Homo sapiens: one gene and its partners. The protein of the gene in region 1 purifies or fractionates together with the protein of each later gene. This does not show direct contact. Each region holds a gene or a part of one and is shown in the gene's direction. Other genes may lie near its edges.

The links.
Region 2: the proteins of PTCH2 (region 1) and SQLE purify together in Homo sapiens (affinity purification with mass spectrometry; one large-scale study listed by BioGRID and IntAct). This does not show direct contact.
Region 3: the proteins of PTCH2 (region 1) and SMO purify together in Homo sapiens (affinity purification with western blotting, with the first as the bait; one study listed by BioGRID). This does not show direct contact.
Region 4: the proteins of PTCH2 (region 1) and PTPRS purify together in Homo sapiens (affinity purification with mass spectrometry; one large-scale study listed by BioGRID and IntAct). This does not show direct contact.
Region 5: the proteins of PTCH2 (region 1) and STAM2 purify together in Homo sapiens (affinity purification with mass spectrometry; one large-scale study listed by BioGRID and IntAct). This does not show direct contact.
Region 6: the proteins of PTCH2 (region 1) and LTAP1 purify together in Homo sapiens (affinity purification with mass spectrometry; one large-scale study listed by BioGRID and IntAct). This does not show direct contact.

The regions. Positions count from the first base shown.
Region 1 is NC_000001.11:44,823,752-44,826,314, reverse strand, and holds part of PTCH2 (protein patched homolog 2), read left to right. Parts: coding exon 1-65; intron 66-2,563. UniProt on the Homo sapiens protein: Plays a role in the control of cellular growth. May have a role in epidermal development. May act as a receptor for Sonic hedgehog (SHH).
Region 2 is NC_000008.11:125,001,461-125,005,115, forward strand, and holds part of SQLE (squalene monooxygenase), read left to right. Parts: intron 1-1,715; coding exon 1,716-1,968; intron 1,969-3,655. UniProt on the Homo sapiens protein: Catalyzes the stereospecific oxidation of squalene to (S)-2,3-epoxysqualene, and is considered to be a rate-limiting enzyme in steroid biosynthesis.
Region 3 is NC_000007.14:129,195,096-129,198,750, forward strand, and holds part of SMO (protein smoothened precursor), read left to right. Parts: intron 1-3,655. UniProt on the Homo sapiens protein: G protein-coupled receptor which associates with the patched protein (PTCH) to transduce hedgehog protein signaling. Binding of sonic hedgehog (SHH) to its receptor patched prevents inhibition of smoothened (SMO) by patched.
Region 4 is NC_000019.10:5,215,158-5,218,812, reverse strand, and holds part of PTPRS (receptor-type tyrosine-protein phosphatase S isoform 1 precursor), read left to right. Parts: intron 1-14; coding exon 15-26; intron 27-280; coding exon 281-393; intron 394-2,045; coding exon 2,046-2,093; intron 2,094-3,217; coding exon 3,218-3,315; intron 3,316-3,400; coding exon 3,401-3,524; intron 3,525-3,655. UniProt on the Homo sapiens protein: Cell surface receptor that binds to glycosaminoglycans, including chondroitin sulfate proteoglycans and heparan sulfate proteoglycan.
Region 5 is NC_000002.12:152,123,711-152,127,365, reverse strand, and holds part of STAM2 (signal transducing adapter molecule 2), read left to right. Parts: intron 1-986; coding exon 987-1,140; intron 1,141-3,430; coding exon 3,431-3,600; intron 3,601-3,655.
Region 6 is NC_000001.11:154,210,446-154,214,100, reverse strand, and holds part of LTAP1 (protein C1orf43), read left to right. Parts: intron 1-154; coding exon 155-208; intron 209-1,476; coding exon 1,477-1,643; intron 1,644-1,722; coding exon 1,723-1,781; coding exon of another isoform or gene 1,782-1,785; exon of another isoform or gene 1,786-2,640; intron 2,641-3,655. UniProt on the Homo sapiens protein: General regulator of phagocytosis. Required to uptake Gram negative bacterium by macrophages.

The DNA.
Region 1 (2,563 bases):
TCCCCGTGGTGATCCTTGTGGCCTCTGTAGGCATTGGCGTTGAGTTCACAGTCCACGTGGCTCTGGTGAGCACGGGCACCCCGGGGAGGGACCAATCAGCTGATTCAGTATTCAACACATATTGTTCAAGCCCCTACTATGTGCTAGGTACTATTTAAGAATTTGGGCTGGGTGGACGTGGTAGCTCATTCCTGTAATCCCAGCACTTTGGGAGGCCGAGGCAGGTGGATCACCTGAGGTCAGGAGTTCGAAACCAGCCTGGCCAACATGGTGAAACCCTGTCTTTACTAAAAATACAAAAAATTAGCCAGGCGTGGTGGCACATGCCAGTAATCCCAGCTACTTTGGAGGCTGAGGCAGAATTGCTTGAACCTGGGAGGCGAAGGTTGCAGTGAGCTGAGATCGTGCCATTGCACTCCAGCCTGGGCAACAAGAGTGAAACTCTCCGTCTCAAAAAAAAAAAAAAAAAAGAATTTGGGCTGGGCACAGTGGCTCATGCCTGTAATTGGGATGATGCTGGGGCATTTTGGGAGGCCAAGGCAGGCGGATCCCCTGAAGTCAGGAGTTCAAGACCAGCCTGGCCAACATTGCAAAACCCCGTCTCTACTGAAAATACAAAAATTAGCTGGGCGTGGTGGCTCATGCCTGTAATCCCAGCTACTCAGGAGGCTGAGGCAGGAGAATTACTTGAACCCAGGAGGCGGAGGTTACAGTGAGCTGAGATCACATCACTGTACTCCAGCCTGGGCAAAAGAGCAAGATTCAATCTCAAAAAAGAATTTGGAAAATAAAAATAAAAAAGAATACGGGATATAATAGCAATACAGTTTTTTACCTCCAAGGAACTTATATTCTAGGGATAGAGATAGACAATAAGGGCTGGGTGAGGTGGCTTACGCCTGTAATCCCAGCACTTTGGGAAGCCGAGGTGGGCACATCACTTGAGGTCAGGAGTTCAAGACCAGCCTGGCCGACATGGTGAAACCCCATCTCTACTAAAAATATGAAAATTAGCTGGGTGTGGGGGTGCATGCCTGTAATCCCAGCTACTTGGAAGGCTGAGGCAGGAGAATCACTTGAACCCGGGAGGGTGGAGGTTGCCATGAGCCGAGACCATGCCACTGCACTCCAGCCTGGGAGACCGAGCAAAACTCCATCTCAAAAAAAGAAAAAAAAGAAGAGAGAGATAGACAGTAAATAAGTAGACAAATAAATAAGCAGCCATTTCAGTAGAGAGGAGTAGACAAGATCCTGTCTGGAATGTGTTAAAGACAGAATGGAAGATGAGAAAATGGGAATCAATGATTCTTTTGAATGGTTTTACTGTGAACCATTGTGGGATGGGCCAGGCATGGTGACTCACACCTGTAATCCCAGCACTTTGGGAGGCTAAAGCTGGTGGATTGCTTGAGCCAGGAGTTCAAGACCAGCCTGGGCAACATGGTGAAACCCCGTCTCTAATAAAAATACAAAAATTAGCCAGGCGTAGTGGCAGGTGCCTGTAATCCCAGCTACTCAGGATGCTGAGGCAGGAGAATTGCTTGAACCTGGGAGGCAGAGGCTGCAGTAAGCCAAGATTGCGCCACTGCACTCCAACCTGGGCAACAGAGCAAGACTCCGTCTCAAAGAAAAAAAATTTTTTTTAAATAATTAGCTGGGCATGGTGGTGCGTGCCTGTAGTCTCAGCCACTCAGGAGGTTGAGGCGGGAGGATCACTTGAACCTCAGAGTTTGAGGCTGCAGTGAGCCATGATTACACCACTGCACTGCAGCCTGGGCAACACAGTAAGATCCTGTCTCAAAAAAAAAAAAAAATGGGATGGTAGCGGGATGGCAATGTGGGCTTAATGGAGGGGTTCTACAAAGATACCAGAGATACAGAGATGCCAGAACCAAGGAGGGCCTCGCCCAGGGCTGCATATTCTCTGGCAGAGGAAAGGGGGGACCCACAGACCAGCCAGACTCCACAAACAGCTCCCTTCCTTTCCCCCCACCAAATATCTCTATTATTATTCTGATTATAAAAACAATATATGATCCTTGAAAACAAACAAAGCCAGCATGCAGAAAGGTACAAAAGAAGAATTAGAAATCCTCTGAAACGCTACTCTGAGAAGTAACTGTTATCACTTTGATGTCCCTCTTCTAGATGGACTAGTGGTTGGCCAACTTCTTCTATTTATAGGACCAAATAATAACTATTTCAGGCTTGGTAGGCCATAGAGTCTCTGCTGCAACTCTGCCATCAAAGCACAAAATTGTCTAGACAATACATTAACCAATGGGTATGGCTGTTTCAACAAAATTTCATTTACAAAACAAGTGACAGGCTGTAGTTTGCCCAACCTATGTTTGTTTGTTTGTTTGTTTGTTTGTTTGAAACAGGGTCTCACTCTGTCGCCCAGGCTGGAGTGTAGCAGTGCAATCTCGGTTCACTGCAACCTCCACCTCCTGGGCCAAGCGATCCTCCCACCTCAGCCTCCCAAGTAGCTGAGACTACAGGCACACACAACCACACCCAGCTAATTTTTGTATTTGTTATAGAGACAGGGTTTTGCCATGTT
Region 2 (3,655 bases), on another chromosome or scaffold:
TGTGTGTGTGTGTGTGTGTGTGTGTGTGTATATAAAACAGGAAAAACTTATGAAGAAGCACATTTTTGGTTAAGATGACAAAAGGGGCTTGTCTTGCCCCCTACAGTAATTTAAATATAGTCAGTTCTGGCCATTAAGACATACTAATGGGAAGAGTAGAATATTGAGATCTTCCCATAGTAAAAGGACAGAAAAGTATTTTTCTGAGAGAAATTAAAAAAAAAAAAAGAATAGACAAATTCCCAGTCCACTATAGAGGTAAAAGAATGCTGGGTGGATATTAGAATCACAGAGTAAAGTTCTAAAGGATTTTAGGCTTCGTCTTCCTTTTTGCTTGATTATTTTTTAAAAACCCCTTCAAATGGCATTTAGTCTTATCTTAATCATTAAGGTCAAAGAACTCAAGGAAGGTGGTTCCTTGCAATTCTGTATCTGAAATGTATTCAAATGTGTGAATCCATCTACCAAGAAGAAATACTACAAAATTGAATTGTTCATTTTAAAAAGCCACTGTGCACTGTTGTTCTTAGTGGTCATAAATCTCTCAAAACAAGACTTTGCATCTTTTTATGATCAAAGTTAAAGTTTTGCTGTCAGTTCAGCCAGTGACAGGTTTAATGTTTTTCCTTGTTCCTTTTTTGGGGACCACCTCTTTGACTAGGATCTCTTAGAGTATCAGGATGGGGAAAAAGGAGGGATAAATTAAATATGTGCTTATATGTTAAGGACCAAAATTGTAAACAAGTCAAATCTAAGAGTCGGTATGAGTTATTTCTTCTCTTGTAATTTTGTTTATTTAGATAATCTTCAATTAATAGATTGGTAGGCAGGATTTGACAATCCTTTTGTCATATAAAAGTGATATTAAATTAACATAGATTTTTCAAATGAAAATCCAGAAAGAGAAAATAAAGATGAATAATGAAAATATCTAAGGCCGCACGCAGTGGCTCACGCCTGTAATCCCAGCACTTTGGGAGGCTGAGGCAGGAGGATCACCTGAGGTCGGGAGTTCAAGACCAGCCTGACCAACATGGAGAAGCCCAGTCTCTACTAAAAATACAAAATTAGCCGGGCATGGTTGCACATGCCTATAATCCCAGCCACTCGGGAGGCTGAGGCCAGAGAATTGCTTGAATCCAGGAGGCGGACGTTGCAGTGATCCGAGATTGCGCCATTGCACTCCAGCCTGGGCAACAAGAGTGAAACTCAGTCTCAAACAAACAAACAAAAAAACAAACAAAAAAAAGAAAATGTCTAAAAGGTGCCGAATAGTTTGTAACATGAACTCAAATCAGAAGTTGTAAGTGATTTGCATCTTGTCGATTCCCAGGATATATTTGAAGAATTTAGTTATTAATGATACAGTTTGCCCTATAATAAGTCTTTGAAGCCCCTTATAAACATTTATTATATTCGGCCCAGTGTGGATTTCTAAATATGTCTGTATAACATTTTCCAAATATCATGTTTAGAAAACAATAAATATTTAATTTTATTGGGATAATATGACACACTTTTATTTAACGAATATTTTGATATCATTGATTTTTATATATTATCTAGATTTTAAAATGTAACAATTTGTTTGGTTTGATAATATTTAGTATCTAGCTTTAGCCTAGGATGCAAAAGTCCAGTGTGTCCACATAGCGGTAGCATGATTTGAATCTAACAAATTTGGATACCTAGTTTACCTTTTTTTTTTTAAACAGCGCAGAAAAGGAACCAATATTTCAGAAACAAGCTTAATAGGAACAGCTGCCTGTACATCAACATCTTCTCAGAATGACCCAGAAGTTATCATCGTGGGAGCTGGCGTGCTTGGCTCTGCTTTGGCAGCTGTGCTTTCCAGAGATGGAAGAAAGGTGACAGTCATTGAGAGAGACTTAAAAGAGCCTGACAGAATAGTTGGAGAATTCCTGCAGCCGGGTGGTTATCATGTTCTCAAAGACCTTGGTCTTGGAGGTAGGTTCATATTGATTTTCAGGAGAGTTACGTGGTATGAACAAGCACTCTTCACTTAGACCATCCTATGACCAGTAAGAAGGTATTCCATTTTATTTTCATTTATAAAATTTTCTATACTCATTTACCAACAAATTTGCATGAAAGTGAGAGCAAAGGATAAAATAAGCATTTAATAGTATGATTAGATGTGAATTAGACTTAATGAGATATAATAAAATGGCCAAAAGATTGTAATGGTCAAAATTAAGGACTGGAAAATCCTAGAATGAGGGCATTAAATTTTGTGAAAGGCGAAGGGAACTGTCATTTGTAGAGGGTATGTTGTATACTTGTTACAGTGTTATTACTTAGAATCTTTTATTTAAGCACCATTCATCCATTCAACCAGTGCTTTTTAAGCACTGGCTATTCATTTAGGAAATATTTATGCACTGTCTACTTTGTGTGGGGATGGGGTGGTGGGGTGGGGTGGGGTGGGGAAGGTGGGAGAGACACAAAGAAGCAAGCCCTCCCCTGTCTTTTTTTCCAAGGGCACTAATCCTATCGTGAGAGTCTACCCTCATGACCTAATCACCTTCTAAAGGCTCCATCTCCAAATATCATCACATTGGGGATTAGAGTTTTAGCTTAGGAATTTTGGGAGGACACAGACATCCAGTCAATACCATATTTGAACATTTTATGTCACTAATATATATACTAGAGTCCACTTTTTCACTTGACAGAAACATATTTCCAATACTGTTAACCATTCTTTATCAGTATCTTTTTAAGCCCAAGCATAGTTGTTTTTCAGTTGACTTCATAATGTACTTCACTTTTCAAACTTAGATGAATGTTTAGGTTATTTTCAGTTATCCTTTTTTAGGTAACACTATAGTGAACCTATTCTTGCATGTAACTTTAAAGATTATTAAATATTATGTCTTTAGGATGAATTTCTTACATGGATTTCCAAGAGTAAGATTATTACATCGAAGGATGCTAATTTCTTCATGGTTCTTGATAATTATTGTTATATTTTCTAAAATATAATATTAGTTCATAGTATCACCAGTAGTATATGAATTTATCAGTTTTATCATAATCTCATCAGTGATTTTGATGGTGTCCTGTTGTTTCAATTTTTACTTAATTTTTTTTATCGTTTGAACATTTTTTCTGATTTGTTCACTGTTTCTATATTGCTTTATATGAATCATCCATACATGTTTTTGTCCATTACTATTGGCGTCTTAATATTTTTCCAGTGGTTTTTAATGAGTAAATTTTATTATATATACATGTATTAATCTTTTGTTCTATTTCATATGTCTTTCCCAAAGTATTGTTTTAGTTTTTATTTTTAAAATTAATTTTTTAACTTTCTAATTTTCGGTTGGCACTTTAAAAATGTGATATTTTCTATTGAAAGTTTTTTATTTTTCAACTGCTTTTGCTGCTTTAGATTTAAGAAAGAAGTTTTTACATGATTCTGATGAATTCAGTGTTTTGTTTGCTGCCATTTAAATTATTTGATGTACTAAAAAGTTCTTTGCAGTTTGTCCTGAGTCACTTTTAATGGATAGTATGTAATCATCAACAGTTGGGGGATAACTCTACCCTTTCCATTTGGTTTGGAAAATCTACTTTTTCATATATTCAGTCATTATATATAAATTGGGGTTTTTTTTTGAGTTTCCAT
Region 3 (3,655 bases), on another chromosome or scaffold:
GTTTACCCATTTTATTGTCATCTCAAGTTTTTGCCCATTGCAAATAACATTGCTGTGAGTAGTCTTTTATGTATATCCTAGTACAACTGGCACAAGTTCCTTCAGGTATATGCTGAAGAAGTAGAATTGCTAGATAATAAGGCACGCATACTTTAGGCTTTTGCCAAACCATTTTTCAAAGTGGTTGTACTAACTTATACTCCCACTAGCTAGTAGAAAGTCAACACTGGTTCACATGATTCCCAACATTTGGTATTATCAGCCTTTTACATTTTTGCCAATCTAGTGGCTATATTGTGGCATATATTTGTGGTTTTAATTTGCACTTCCCTGATTACTAGTAAAGTTAAATGCCTTTTTAAATGCTTACTGGCCTTTAGGGTTTCTGCTTTTGGGAAGTGTCTGTTCAAATCTTTGACATATTTTTCCATAGGGGCTATCTGTCATTTTTGTAAGATTTGTAGGAGTTCTTTATATATGCTAGATATGAGTTTATAGGATTACAAAGGAAATCAATTATATTGACATAATAGTTATCAAATATAAAAATGCAAGTATGTGGGCTTATTTATTTATACAATAAATAAGATCTGGTGCAGGTGTAATAACAACTATAATATCAAAGTGATTATAAGCATTGACATTATTTCAAGATATCTGCAACAAAAATATCTGGTTTCCACTTGTGACAACGCCACAGGTACTATTAACATTATGTACTGTGGGCCAGGCGTGGTGGCTCACACCTGTAATCCCAGCACTTTGGGAGGTCAAGGTGGGCAGATCACGAGGTCAGGAAGTCGAGACCATCCTGGCTAACACGGTGAAACCCCATCTCTACTAAAAATACAAAAAATTAGCCGGGCGCGGTGGTGGGCGCCTGTAGTCCCAGCTACTCGGGAGGCTGAGGCAGGAAAATGGTGTGAACCCAGGAGGCGGAGCTTGCAGTGAGCCGAGATCGTGCCACTGCACTCCAGCCTGGGTGACAGAGTGAGACTCCCTCTCAAAAAAAAAAAAAAGAAAAGAAAAAAAAAACAAAAAAAAATTATGTACTGCGATGTGTTGCTTACATTCATAATTGGAGGAAGGGCCAAATTTTAGTTAGGTGTAATTTTTTTCCCATTGAAATTCATGGACCTCTGAATTTTTCCAAGAATCCTTTGTGAACCATAGGGTAAGAATGTTACTTACAGAATATCACTATCTAGTAGAGAGTCTGAGCTATTCTTGATTGTGTGTGTGTGTGTGTGTGTGTGTGTGTTTTAATAGAGACAGGGTTTGACCCTATTGTCCCGGCTGGTCTTGAACTCCTGGGCTCAAGTGATCCTCCTGCCTTGGCCTCCCAAAATGCTCCTTTGTGTTTTAATATAAAAATACTTGGTGATTTTTTATTGGGATTGCATTGACTATATAGATTAACTTGGAAAAAAAAAGAGACATCTTTACAATACTGAGTCTTCCAAACATTGAACATTTATATATTTCTATTTAGATCTTTCATTTTCTCAATATTCTGCACAGATTTAAATACTTATTATTTGTTAGACATTCCTAGGTACTTGATATTTTTGATGCTGTTGTAAATGATGCCTTTAACATTTATTTCACTTTGTTTGTTGCTGACATATAGAAATAAAACTGGCTGGGCACGGTGGCTCACACCTGTAATCCCAGCACTTCGGGAGGCCAAGGCAGGGGGATCACGAGGTCAGGAGATTGAGACCGTCCTGGCTAACATGGTGAAACTCCATCTCTACTAAAAATACAAAAAGTTAGTCGGGCATGGTGGCGGGCGCCTGTAGTCCCAGCTACTCAGGAGGCTGAGGCAGGAGAATGGCGTGAACCTGGGAGGCGGAGCTTGCAATGAGCCCAGATTGTGCCACTGCACTCCAGCCTGGGCAATACAGTGAGACACCGTCTCAAAAAAAAAAAAAAAAAAGAAATAAAATTGATGCCTTTAACATTTATTTCACTTTGTTGCTGATATATAGAAATAAAATTGATTGTGAATTCAGTAAACTTGCTAAATTTATTCTATACACATAGTCATATAATTTGTGAGTAATGAGTTTTGTTTCTTTCTTTCCAAGTCTTATACCTTTTATTTATCCTTATTGCTTTACTGAAGGCTTCCAGTACATTGTTAAATAGACAAAACATCTTAATTCTTGACTTTTCTGGATTCTAAAAAGAAAGCTTTTTCTACCCTTCACCATTAAATTTGATGTTTGGTATAGGTTTTTTATAGTTAATTACATTTTATCAGATTAAGAACGTTGTCTCTTATTTCAAATTTGCCAATTATTCTTTTGATCATAGATGGATGTTGAATTTTATCAACTTTTTTTTTTGGAGACGAAGTGTCACTGTCACCGAGGCTGGAGTGCAGTGATGCGATCTCAGCTCACTGCAACCTCTGCCTCCTGGGTTCAAGCGATTCTCCTGCCTCAGCCTCCCAAGTATCTGGGACTACAGGCGCATGCCACCACGCCCGGCTAATTTTTTGTATTTTTAGTAGAGACGGGGTTTCACCGTGTTAGCCAGGTCAATTTCCTGACCGTGTGATCCGCCCGCCTCAGCCTCCCAAAGTGCTAGGATTACAGGTGTGAGCCACTGCGCCCGGCTGAATTTTATCAACTTTTTTTTGCATCCATTGAGATGATCATATGATTTTTTTCTCCTTTAACCTGTTAATGTAGTAAATTGCATTGATTGAATTTTCTAATATTAAACCAGCCTTAGAACAGTGATACTCAACTTGACTAGTCATCAGAATCACACAAATAAAAAGTCTTTTTAAAAGTCTAGATCAGCCAGGCGCGGTAACACCCGTATTCCTGTTTCTCTTTTTGTTTCATATTTTATTAAAATAAAAGAAGTAAAATAATACTGATAAAGCTGATATCCCCTCTCTTTCTCGTTTCAGTTTCATATCCTTCTTTTCTCTTTGGAAAGCTTCCCCATCCTAGTAATTTGTGTATTTCTTTATTTTGTTTTTAAGCTCAAGTTTTGTTTTTGTTTTTGTTTTTGTTTTTTTGTAGAGATGGGGTTTGGCCATATTGCCCAGGTTGGTCTCGAACTCCTGAACTTAAGTGATCCACCCACCTTGGGCCTCCCAAAATGCTAGGATTATAGGCGTGAGCCACCATGTCCAGCCTTAAGCTTAATTACTTTTAAAAAATAGGTTATACATGTACATGGCACAGAATTCAAAAGGAACAAGTTAAGTCCTACTTCTGCATCTAGCTACCCATTTTTCCTCTGCAGAAGTAACCACCAACACTGGTTTTTGTGTCCTTTTGGAAATATCCAACATCTGTCCAGATGTAGATGTGCTCTCAGTCTCTCCTCTACCGCCCAACCAGTACCATGCTCTATAGACTGCTCTCCACTCAACTGAGTCCATGTAACATGACAACATTGGACATCATTCCATTTCAATGCACATCCTGTCATGCACCCCAGAAGGAGATTTTGGTTAACAATGGACCACATGTGATGGTGTTCCCTTAAGATTATAATACCACATTTTTACTGTAGCCTTTCAATGTTTAGATATGTTTAGATACACTGATACTCACCGTTGTGTTACAGTTGCCTGCAGTATTCAGTATAGCAACATGCTGTACAGGTTTGCAGCCTAGAAGCCATAGGT
Region 4 (3,655 bases), on another chromosome or scaffold:
GCTTTCGGGAACAGCAAACCCGACAGGTAAGAACCAGCCCTCCCCCGTGGAGGCTTCAGGCAAGAGGAAGAGGACAGGGAATGGGCTGATAGTGTGCCCACAGGAGAGGGGATGCCCGGCTGCCCCCACAGCTTGTACACGTAGCTGTACTTGGTCCTGGAAACCCTAGTCATACGGGTCCATGGTCCTTTTCTTACCATGCATTCCTGGGGCCTGAATTGTGTTCACACATGAACATGTGCCACTACTAACTGGACTGTTCCGCTTGCTTCTCCTAAAGTAAACGCAAGGACTCAGAACCCCGCACCAAATGCCTCCTGAACAATGCCGACCTCGCCCCTCACCACCCCAAGGACCCTGTGGAAATGAGACGCATTAACTTCCAGACTCCAGGTATGTACTTATCCCTGGTACCAGGGATGCCACCAACAGGGGAGATAGCTGGGGAGAAGCAGTAGCTGCCACCCTGGGGGCCCCTCATTGGCCCCCTCTGAACTATGCTTGGTGCAGCCACATTCTGGATTCCCAAATACCTCCAACCCTACATGGATCTGGGCTTGGAACTCATAGGTTGGTTCTGCTTACAACCAAGTGAGGCTTTTTTTTTTTTAAAGTTAACATTTAACCAATGGCTGCTGTCCTCTTCAGGAGCCTAAAGACGATGTTTAAAAAATGGAGAAAACACAAATAAACCCCTCATTTCTTTGGGCAGAAAGAGCTATTCTTCTGTTTATGTCTCTGGTTTTAATGTTCCTCGGTGGTGGGAGTTGAGGTTTGCCCTCAGCCATTTTCCACACTCCCTTGGGATATATCCCTAGCAAGGTACAGAAATTATACCTGCCCAATGCCCTGTACCTCTTCCCACCATGGCTGCCAGGGTTCATGCCTCTTTATAGTTCCCTGTAGATTAAAGTCACCTGACAGTCCAGGAGAACTGAATCAAGGCCTTATCCTTGATCATTTTCATGTATGATTCACAAACTCTACCATCTCCTCCCTCTTCATGGGCTCATGCCAGCTGCTTCTAACCAAATAAGGAATTTTTCATTTTACTGATGGCTGCTATTCTCCTTATGGGTTCACAGCCAAGTTACATCTGTCCTTCCAACTGTACCCGGTCTCCACTTCGTATCTCTGAACTGGTTCATATCAACTCTATTTTCCAACCAAATGAAGATTTTAAACATTTGTATTTCACTGATGTCTTTAGTCCTCCTTAAAGCCTCATGCATAGCCTCACATGCCATTCCTGATGTACTTTCTTTTTTTTTGTCTCTGGACTGGCTTGTGTCACTTCTGTTTTCATCCAAATGAGGAGTTTGACCATTAGTATTTAACTGATGGCTGCTGTCCTCATAAAGGGATCATGCAGGGCCTCATGTATCACCCCTCGTGTATTCTCTTCCCTTTCTTTCCTCTGTACTGATTCGTGTTGCTTTGGTTTTTCAGCCAAATGAGAATTTTAAATGTGCATGTAACTGACGGCTGCAGTCTCCTGAAGGGATCATGCAGAGTCTCACAATTCACCGCTAATGTGCTCCCATCTCATTTCTGTCTCTGGACTAGCTGATGTCTGTTGTGTTTCCATCCAAATAAGGATTTTCAACATGTGCATTTAACTGATGGTTGCTGTCCTCCTTGAAGCTCATGGCATGGGCCCATATGTCCTTTCCCTGCTCCCCCAGCTTCTCCTTCACCATCCTGCATCCTCCTTCCTCAGAATGCCCTCTGCTGACCTCAACAGAGGGGACCCAAGGCCAGGCTGGTCTGGGGGAGGGGATCTGTAGACAGAAGAACCTAGCACTTTGGAGTCCTTCCAGAGTGACGGGTCAAGACCAGGATTGACTGGTGTCCAGCCAGAGGGGTACACAGTTAGCAGCTATCGTGAGTCCTCAGGTGGGGGCCCAGGTGGCTGTACATACCCCCCGTTGTCCGCGTTGCTCTGCCCTTTGCATCCGCCAGCCAGTGAGGGGTGGGGGAGGCAGAGGTGGGACCCCCCCCTACCCCCTGCATGTTTTCATTTATTTATTGTTTGCTGTTTGCAGATTCAGGCCTCAGGAGCCCCCTCAGGGAGCCGGGGTTTCACTTTGAAAGTTAGTTCTTGTGTCTGTTTTTGGCTTCCTTTCGCCCCCGCCCCCGTTCATTTCCTCTTTGGTTTCTCCATCGTGTCTCCTGTCTCTGTCCACACGCCCACCCATCACCGGCCTTTGCCCACCTGTCTTGTGCTGGCTCCTGGAAGAGGGCAGGGGGTTGGTCCATTGGGCCCTCAGGTGGCTGTGTGTGACTGCTGTGTGTGTGGTGTGTATGTGTGTGTCAGGGATGTGGGTGAGGCACGTATGTACCCAGGACGTGCCCACAGGACAGGCAGGCCCCTTAGATGTGAGCTCTTGGGGGGCACCCAGGACAGCTAGGGACACATGGAAGTCTCAGAACATTAAATGTTACCAGCTGGTCTGGAAACCACCTGAGAGCTGAACATCCGGTACACAGGTCCCAGGAGAGGTCAGGGTTCTGCAGACCCAGATATCGGGAAGGGAGAACCGAGCCCACACCCAGCACCTTCGGCAGCCATCCTAGGGGGCTTGAAAGGATAAGAGCTCTCAGGCCAGGGCCTTCTTGCACCTGCTCCTGCCCCAAGCAAGCGCAGGGACAGATGGGGACCCCTCACTCCTCTCACGTACACACACACATACTGTTTCCCCTCCCTAGTCTGTCGCCTCTACCTGGAAGCGGATTTCGTGCCTCTGATCCCAGAGGGACAGAAAGGGGTGTCAGTCGCCCACCCAAGGACAGTATTTCCAAAGCACAGCCGGCTGCGTCTGCAATTTAATTTCTGTGCCACACACTTGCTTCTTGGCTCGAGGCACTGGGAGCTTGACATCCTCTGGGGTGACCCTTCTGCCAGCCCCTGCACCCCCAGCTTGGTTGGAAGGAAACAGGATGGGCCAATGCTGTGATCCAGGCCCCTCCAGGGGTGTCAGCCTCTGCACGGAGCAGAGGGCCTCAAACCTGCTGCCTTTAGAGTCCCCTAGGCCTGGGGTCCCAGCCCCTTCATGAGCCACCCTGAGTCTTCCCCTCCTGCCAAGCCCCACCCCGGCCATGCCCTTCTAACCACAGCTCACCCATCGCAGACTCACACGTAGATCACCCCCCTCCCCCGAGTCCCCGGCTGGCCCCCCAAGTGACCAACCCCGGCGGGGTCTGCTCCACCCTGTAGGCATGCTTAGCCACCCGCCAATTCCCATCGCAGACATGGCGGAGCACACGGAGCGGCTCAAGGCCAACGACAGCCTCAAGCTCTCCCAGGAGTATGAGGTGAGCCCACCCCCGCCTCCCACCCTCATCACCTCGGCCTCACAGGCACCTACCCTGACACCCGCGCTCTCCCCTTCCTCTGTAGTCCATCGACCCTGGACAGCAGTTCACATGGGAACATTCCAACCTGGAAGTGAACAAGCCGAAGAACCGCTATGCCAACGTCATCGCCTATGACCACTCCCGTGTCATCCTCCAGCCCATTGAAGGTAGTTCGGAGATCCCGGGTCTTAACCTGCCCTTCCCCACTGCATGGAAAGTGCTAGATCCCATGTCTCCCCTTGGGCCACTGAGGCCTGATTCTGGTCATAGACCTGGTCCAGCTCCAACTGGAGGCCAC
Region 5 (3,655 bases), on another chromosome or scaffold:
CTCAGCACCGAAATTATGAATTGATTGCATTTTATGAGGTGTGGAAGGACTTTTCCCTAATATTATAAAGTCATATTGTCACCAGTAGAGGATTGTGACTGCAAGTTGTCCATGTTCTTAGCATTTTGAACAAAGAATTGGACAAAATGCCCAGCAAAGCAAAGAAAGATGGAAGCAACAAAAGAACAAAAGCAGGGTTTTATTGAAAATGAAAGTACACCCCACAGTGTGGGAGTGGGCCTGAGCAGCAGCTCAAGGGCCAGGATACAGAATCTTCTTGGGTCCAAGTACCCCCTAGAAGTTTCCCATTGGCCTTTTCGTGCTCACCTCATGTAAATGAAGTGGAAGCTCACAATCAGTCTGATTGGTTGCAGAAAGCAGCCAACCAGAGGCTGAAATGAAGTTACAAAGGTAACACTGCTGTGCAAACATCTGATTGGTTGCAAAAAGCAACCAATCAGAGGCTAGGGTGAAGTTACAAAGTTATATTTCTTTGCAAATGAAGACTCCGCCCACAGTCAGTCTGATTGGTTGTGGACAGCAACCATTCAGAGGCTGAAGTTACAAAGTTGCAAATGGAGACTGGACCTGTAATCAGTCTGATTTTTTTCGGACACCCAATTTCCCATCTGCTGCACAGAAAACGTGGGGGGTTTGCAAAGGAAGTAGCCTCTGGTCCTTTTGTTACTTAGGTGTGGAAAGTTAGGGTTGGTTTTCCTTTCAATTTAGTTATAAGAAGTCAGCTTGAAAATCAGCCTTAGATTCCCTGCCTCCAGACCCTATTCTCCTGCCTCAATATCAGCCTAGCTATTACAAGGATTAAGCAGTTCTTCCTCTTAGTTTCCCTTTGTGAATATTCTTTCATTAAATATAAAAAAGCCTTTTAATATATTAATAGAAATTGTGCTAAATTAAAAAAATAATTTATATTACTAAATACATGCTAAAAACTAGAAGAGTATTATAATACTTTTCTTCTACATCAGGAAGCATTCAGAATTGTCTGAATTGAATGTTAAAGTCCTGGAAGCTCTGGAACTATATAACAAATTGGTGAATGAAGCACCAGTGTACTCAGTCTATTCAAAGCTCCACCCTCCAGCACATTACCCACCTGCATCATCTGGGGTTCCAATGCAGGTGAGCATGTTTTTTGAGAACATTTTCTAAATTATAAACAACTTTTAAAAGTAAAAGAAAATGTTTTATAGCATAGTATTAAGATTTCTTTTGTCTGTGAATAAAATTATAAAATTTATCTTTGATTGTTTCAGTAAATATTGGCTAAACAATTAACATTCACCAGAGCAAATTAGACAGATACTGATATTTCACAAATACATTTTAGTTCAGTTTTAACATGGATGAAAAGACCATTAAATATGTGAGGGTAGTTCTGGTTCTTCATATGCTTTTGTAAGTATAAAGCATAAATCTTTTATGTAAACATAAATCCTTTTTGTAAATATGGAGTATAAATCTTTTGATTTAGGACAATACCTGACATATCAGAAGTTCCCCAGGTGAGGTACTAACGCTTTCCTGCTGCTCAACAAGATTTAACATTTCTTTACAAATTTCCATAAAGATTTATTTGACTTACATGATTATTAACAGGCACAATGAACTTCTAGAGTATGCTTTATACTTCCTTTACTTAGCTGCATGACTTACATTGTTAAAAATCTGTGCATAGCAAAGATATGATACATGTCTAGGAGGTACAGACTCCGTAAGCCATCCATGAACATCCATAAGCCATCTTTTTCCAGTACTTTTCACCTTTTTTGTGTGCTTGCCATGTGAAGCGAATACTTACATTTGTCAGTATCCCCATTCGGAAGCGTTTTTTGAAATTTCAGCCAATTAGCCAATTGAATTCAGAATGAGCTTGGATGAGCAAAATTCATGTTAATTTATGAAAACTGGTATGTAAAGGTGCATGTGAAGGAGACACCAAGGAGAAAGGGTAGAATGTGGGTGCATAATTTAGATGACTTGACACAACATAATTGTTAAGTAAAAAAAGAATAGTCACTATGGTAACTGTCACGTCAGACAAGATACATTTATCAAATATGCCATGCCTTGATCTTTTTGAAAATTAGGAGGGTAGGAAAGATTTTTCTGGCTGCAAAAGACCTTTGGGATTTATTCAGTTTGCTTCTGTTTTCAGAGTTGTTCGCTGCTGCTGTGAAAGTGGAACAAAACAGCAGTGTCTGCATCATTGTATGATAAAACTTTATGTTTGCTTTTTTGTGTGTCTGTAAAGGGTTATTTGCCATTCTGTGTCAGGTTTTGGTGTTTAGTTGCATTCTACTTACTGCGTTTTGCCAAGCACAACTCATGTCTCTAAAAAGTTAACTTTCTGTTTGATTCCTCACGTAATCTGTACCTACACTGTTCACTCAAGAGCATTTGAAATATTCAAAAGTTTCTATTCTAATTTGACAAAAATATATCTCTACTAGAAGCAGTTGGGGTAACACATTAGTTATATTGTGTAGGCTACTCAGGAACCCTAAACTGCAGAAGACGCTGATTCTCACAGTCTCAGCCTATTGTCAGTAGATTGTTACATGTCTACTAAGGAGGTAATGTGATTGTACTTAATATAGCTTATTTGGCATTTCTAGCATTCTAAATTTTCAGATGAATGGTATTTACTTTAAAAATAGCTTAATTTAAAACTGGATTGATGATCATTATGGTATGATATGATATTAAATGTATGCATTGTTTTGATGCTATATTTAGTAGACAGGTGGTAGACCCTGTCCTTAAGGAGCTGTTGTCCTGAAAATAAGTAGGGCACATATAAATGTCCAAAGAGACCTAAACCATTTTTGCTGTTTCCTGAGGATACATGTCTTTTGCCCATAACTCTTCTTTACTTTTGTCCTGTTTGTCTTAAAGGTAGAGAATAAGGTAGACATTGCCAGGGAAGCCCTGGCACCCTTATACCATTTCTTTTTCAGCTTTTTCTCTCAAGTTTCTTTCTTAGGAAGGAGTTGGATGAGTCATCCAGGGATGAGGGTAAAGAAGGTTATCATTCTTATAGTGACTTTAAGTGATGGTGGGCTTCCCTTCAAGGGAGTGTATAGTTTTCTGTGGCTCTACAGCAAGACATCTTTACTGAGTAATAGGCAACCTGGATAGATTGCAATCCACTACTTAAAAGTACACCACCTGTCTTTCTCCCAGCTCTCTGTAAAAATAAAAGAACAGCCAAACAAATCAAATTTCCATAGATTTGGCACTGTGATTTGACAGCTCTCCACTTTTAGTTCTAAGATGGATAGATTGGTAGAATCAGATTGCTTCCCAAAGAAGTATAGTTTCTTTCCTTTAAGTCTTTTAACATTTTAAATATATTATTAGGCACATGTTTGGGAGATGAGTGAATCAACTTTTTCTTTCTGATTAATAGACATATCCAGTTCAATCACATGGTGGAAACTATATGGGTCAGAGCATTCACCAAGTAACTGTTGCCCAAAGCTATAGCCTAGGACCCGATCAAATTGGTCCACTGAGATCTCTGCCTCCAAATGTGAATTCCTCAGTGACAGCACAGCCTGCTCAAACTTCATATTTAAGGTAAGTTTTGGGAGCTGTGTTAATTTTATATGTGTTAATTTTCCTAGATTTTCAG
Region 6 (3,655 bases), about 110 Mb from region 1:
TCTCCATGTTGGTCAGGCTGGTCTCAAACTCCTGACCTCAGGTGATCCACCCACCTCAGCCTCCCAAAGTGTTGGGATTACAGGCATGAGCCACCACGCCCAGCCTGGGGAATATTTTTAGGGTTATGCCTAACACCAGTCTTTTCCTCAACAGGTTGCTACAACTATCTGTATAGGATGAAAGCTCTGGATGCCATTCGTACCTCTGGTAAGGGCTACCTGACAGGGTCCATTCTAGGATCCTGAAAGCCCACCTAGGGAACAGAGTAATGAACCCACTTTGTATGTTAGGATTTGTCCTTTCTGCACATCCCTGGCTAGTAGGAAATTCTAGAGTTTTGAAAGTACTAGATTAGAGATTTTGCTGAAGGAAATGATATAAGCAGGTTATTCTCCAAAGAGTCTGGGTGTTTTGTTTTTTAAAGTTCTTCTCTTGAGACCTTTAGTTTCATGAAGTAGATGATAGTAATTTGCTTGTTTTTCCACAAAGGACAGGTGGCACCTGCTTTTTCACTAAGCCCAAGATAGATTGTTCTTGAATTTTTTCCATTCTGTCAACACTTGTCATATATGCTTTATCTCTATGAAAACAGTTTATATCTTAAACCTAGGATGGATGAGTAAGCAGGATGGTAAAATGTGTGATGACACTATCATGTGTCATAGATGTAGCTTACAACTGTGGTGTTACCACCAAATGACCACTCAGGCACAGCTTTATACCTTTGGTCTCAATCAGAATCTCCCTCTAACTCAACTTGCTCATTTCATTAGACCTATTTCTTTTTATTTTTGAGACGGAGTCTTGCTCTGTTGCCCAGGCTGGAGTGCAGTAGCACGATCTTGGCTCACCACAACCTCCACCTCCTGGGTTCAAGCGGTTCTCCTGCCTCAGCCTCCCGAGTAGCTGGGATTACAGGTACCTACCACCATGCCTGGTTAATTTTTGTATTTTTAGTAGGGACAGGTTTTCACCATGTTGGCCAGGCTGGTCTCAAACTCCTGACCTCAGGTGATCTGCCTGCCCCGGCCTCCCAAATTGCTGTAATTACAGGCGTGAGCCACTGCGCCCAGCTTCATTAGACCTACTTCTAAGTTTGGGGAATTAACTAGAAAGACTAAAGAATGGGGCAGGCGCAGTGGCTCATGCCTGTAATCCCAACGCTTTGGGAGGGCGAGGCAGACAGATCACAGGAGGCCAGGAGTTCAAGACCAACCTAGCCAACAAGGTGAAACCCTTTTGTATTTTTGTCTCTACTAAAAATACAAAAATAAGCCTGGCATGGTGGTGCACATCTGTAATCCCAGCTAATCAGGAGGCTGAGACTAGAGAATTGCTCAAACCTAGGAGGTGGAGGTTGCAGTGAGCCAAGATCACTGCCACTGCACTCCAGCCCGGGTGACAGAGCGAGACTCCATCTCAAAAAAAAAGACTAAAGAATGAGAAGAGATATCATTGTGCTGTTTTCTCCACAGAGATCCCATTTCATTCTGAAGGCCGGCATCCCCGTTCCTTAATGGGCAAGAATTTCCGCTCCTACCTGCTGGATCTGCGAAACACTAGTACGCCTTTCAAGGGTGTACGCAAAGCACTCATTGATACCCTTTTGGATGGCTATGAAACAGCCCGCTATGGGACAGGGGTAAGCCAGTTTTTTCTTCGGGGCACTAAAGAGATCCCTCAGACTGAGAGATCCTCACTCTTCCTTTCTCTTTCCTAAGGTCTTTGGCCAGAATGAGTACCTACGCTATCAGGAGGCCCTGAGTGAGCTGGCCACTGCGTGAGTTTGGAGGGGAACGTGTCAGAGGGAGCTGGTACAGTAGTGTTGGACTGTTGCCACAGTGCAGTGACCTTCATAAAGCATATAAACAAAATCCATGATACCATAAGAGTTGTCAGGTTCTAGACTATTAGATCAGTCTCTTACATTAGAAAGCAGATGCGGCCGGGCACAGTGGTTCACGCCTATAATCCCAGCACTTTGGGAGGCCGAGGCGGGAGGATCATCTGAGGTTGGGAATCCGAGACCAGCCTGACCAACATGGAGAAACCCCGTTCTCTACTAAAAATACAAAATTAGCCGGGCGTGGTGGCGCATGCCTGTAATCCTAGCTTCTGGGGAGGCTGAGGCAGGAGAATCTCTTGAACCCGGGAGGCGGAGGTTGCGGTGAGCCAAGATCGTGCCATTATACTCCAGCCTGGGCAACAAAAGTGAAACTCTGTCTCAAAAAAAAAAAAGAAGAAAAGAAAGCAGATGCAACTATACAAGCTAGTAAAAGAAGTTTTTACTAGCATTTTTCTTGTGTGCATTTTTCTTGTCTTTTGTTTAGCCCAATAAAATGTCAAAATTGGTGTAGCCTAGCAAAGGGAATAGTTTTTCAGCACACACAGGGATTCCTTCTCTTCAGAGTCTCAGCGTCCCTTTTGTGTCTTGGCCCAATAAAAGTAAGAATTAAATAACATTGGGCCGGGCGCGGTGGCTCACGCCTGTAATCCCAGCACTTTGGGAGGCCGAGGCAGGCGAATCATGAGGTCAAGAGATCAAGACCATCCTAGCCAACAAGGTGAAACCCTGTCTCTACTAAAAATACAAAAATTAGCTGGGCATGGTGGTGCGTGCCTGTAATCTCAGCTACTCGGGTGGCTGAGGCAGGAGAATCGCTTGACCCCAGGAGGCAGAGGTTGCAGTGAGCTGAGATCACGCCACTGCACTCCAGCCTGGTGACAGAGCAAGACTCCATCTCAAAAAAAAAAAAAAAAAAAAAAAAAAAAAAAGAATTAAATAACATCTATTTTTGGCCGGGCGCGGTGGCTCACGCCTATAATCCCAGCACTTTGGGAGGCCGAGGAGGGTGGATCACAAGGTCAGGAGTTCAAGACCAGCCTGGCCAACATGGTGAAACCTCGTCTTTACTGAAAATACAAAAATTAGCTGGGCATGCTGGCGGGCTCCTGTAATACCAGCTACTCGGGAGGCTGAGGCAGAAATCACTTGAACCCGGGAGGTGGAGGTTGCAATGAGCCGATATCATGCCATTGCACTTCAGCTGGGGTGACAAGAGCATGACTGTCTCAAAAAAAAAATAAAAATTAAAAATTAAAAAAATCTATTTTTACTACCACTTAAAGTATTAGTAACCATGTCTGAAACAAAGGCCATCGCTATAGAGTCAGCTGTTGAGCATTTGTGTCACAGGAGAGGATTCATGGCTTTTGTTTGGGAATGTTTTTAATACACACTAAACATAGTCTCGTATTTTCATGCAAATGTTAAAATCAAAGTTCTTGGCGAGAAAGGAAAGCCAATCTAGAGTAAAAACTTAGGCCGGGCGCAGTGGCTCACACCTGTAATCCCAACACTGGGAGGCCGAGGCAGGTGGATCATCTAAGGTCAGGAGTTCAAGACCAGCTTAACCAACATGGTGAAACCCCATCTCTACAAAAATACAAAAATTAGCCGGGCATGATGATGTGCGCACCTGTAATGCCAGCCACTCAGGAAGGTGAGGCAGGAGAATCGCTTGAACCTGGGAGGTGGAGGTTGCAGTGAGCCAAGATCGTGCCATTCCACTCCAGCCTAGGCGACAGAGCGAGACTCCATCTCAAAATAATAATAAACAGTTAGTTACCAGCCATAAAAATAATCTGTTTTCT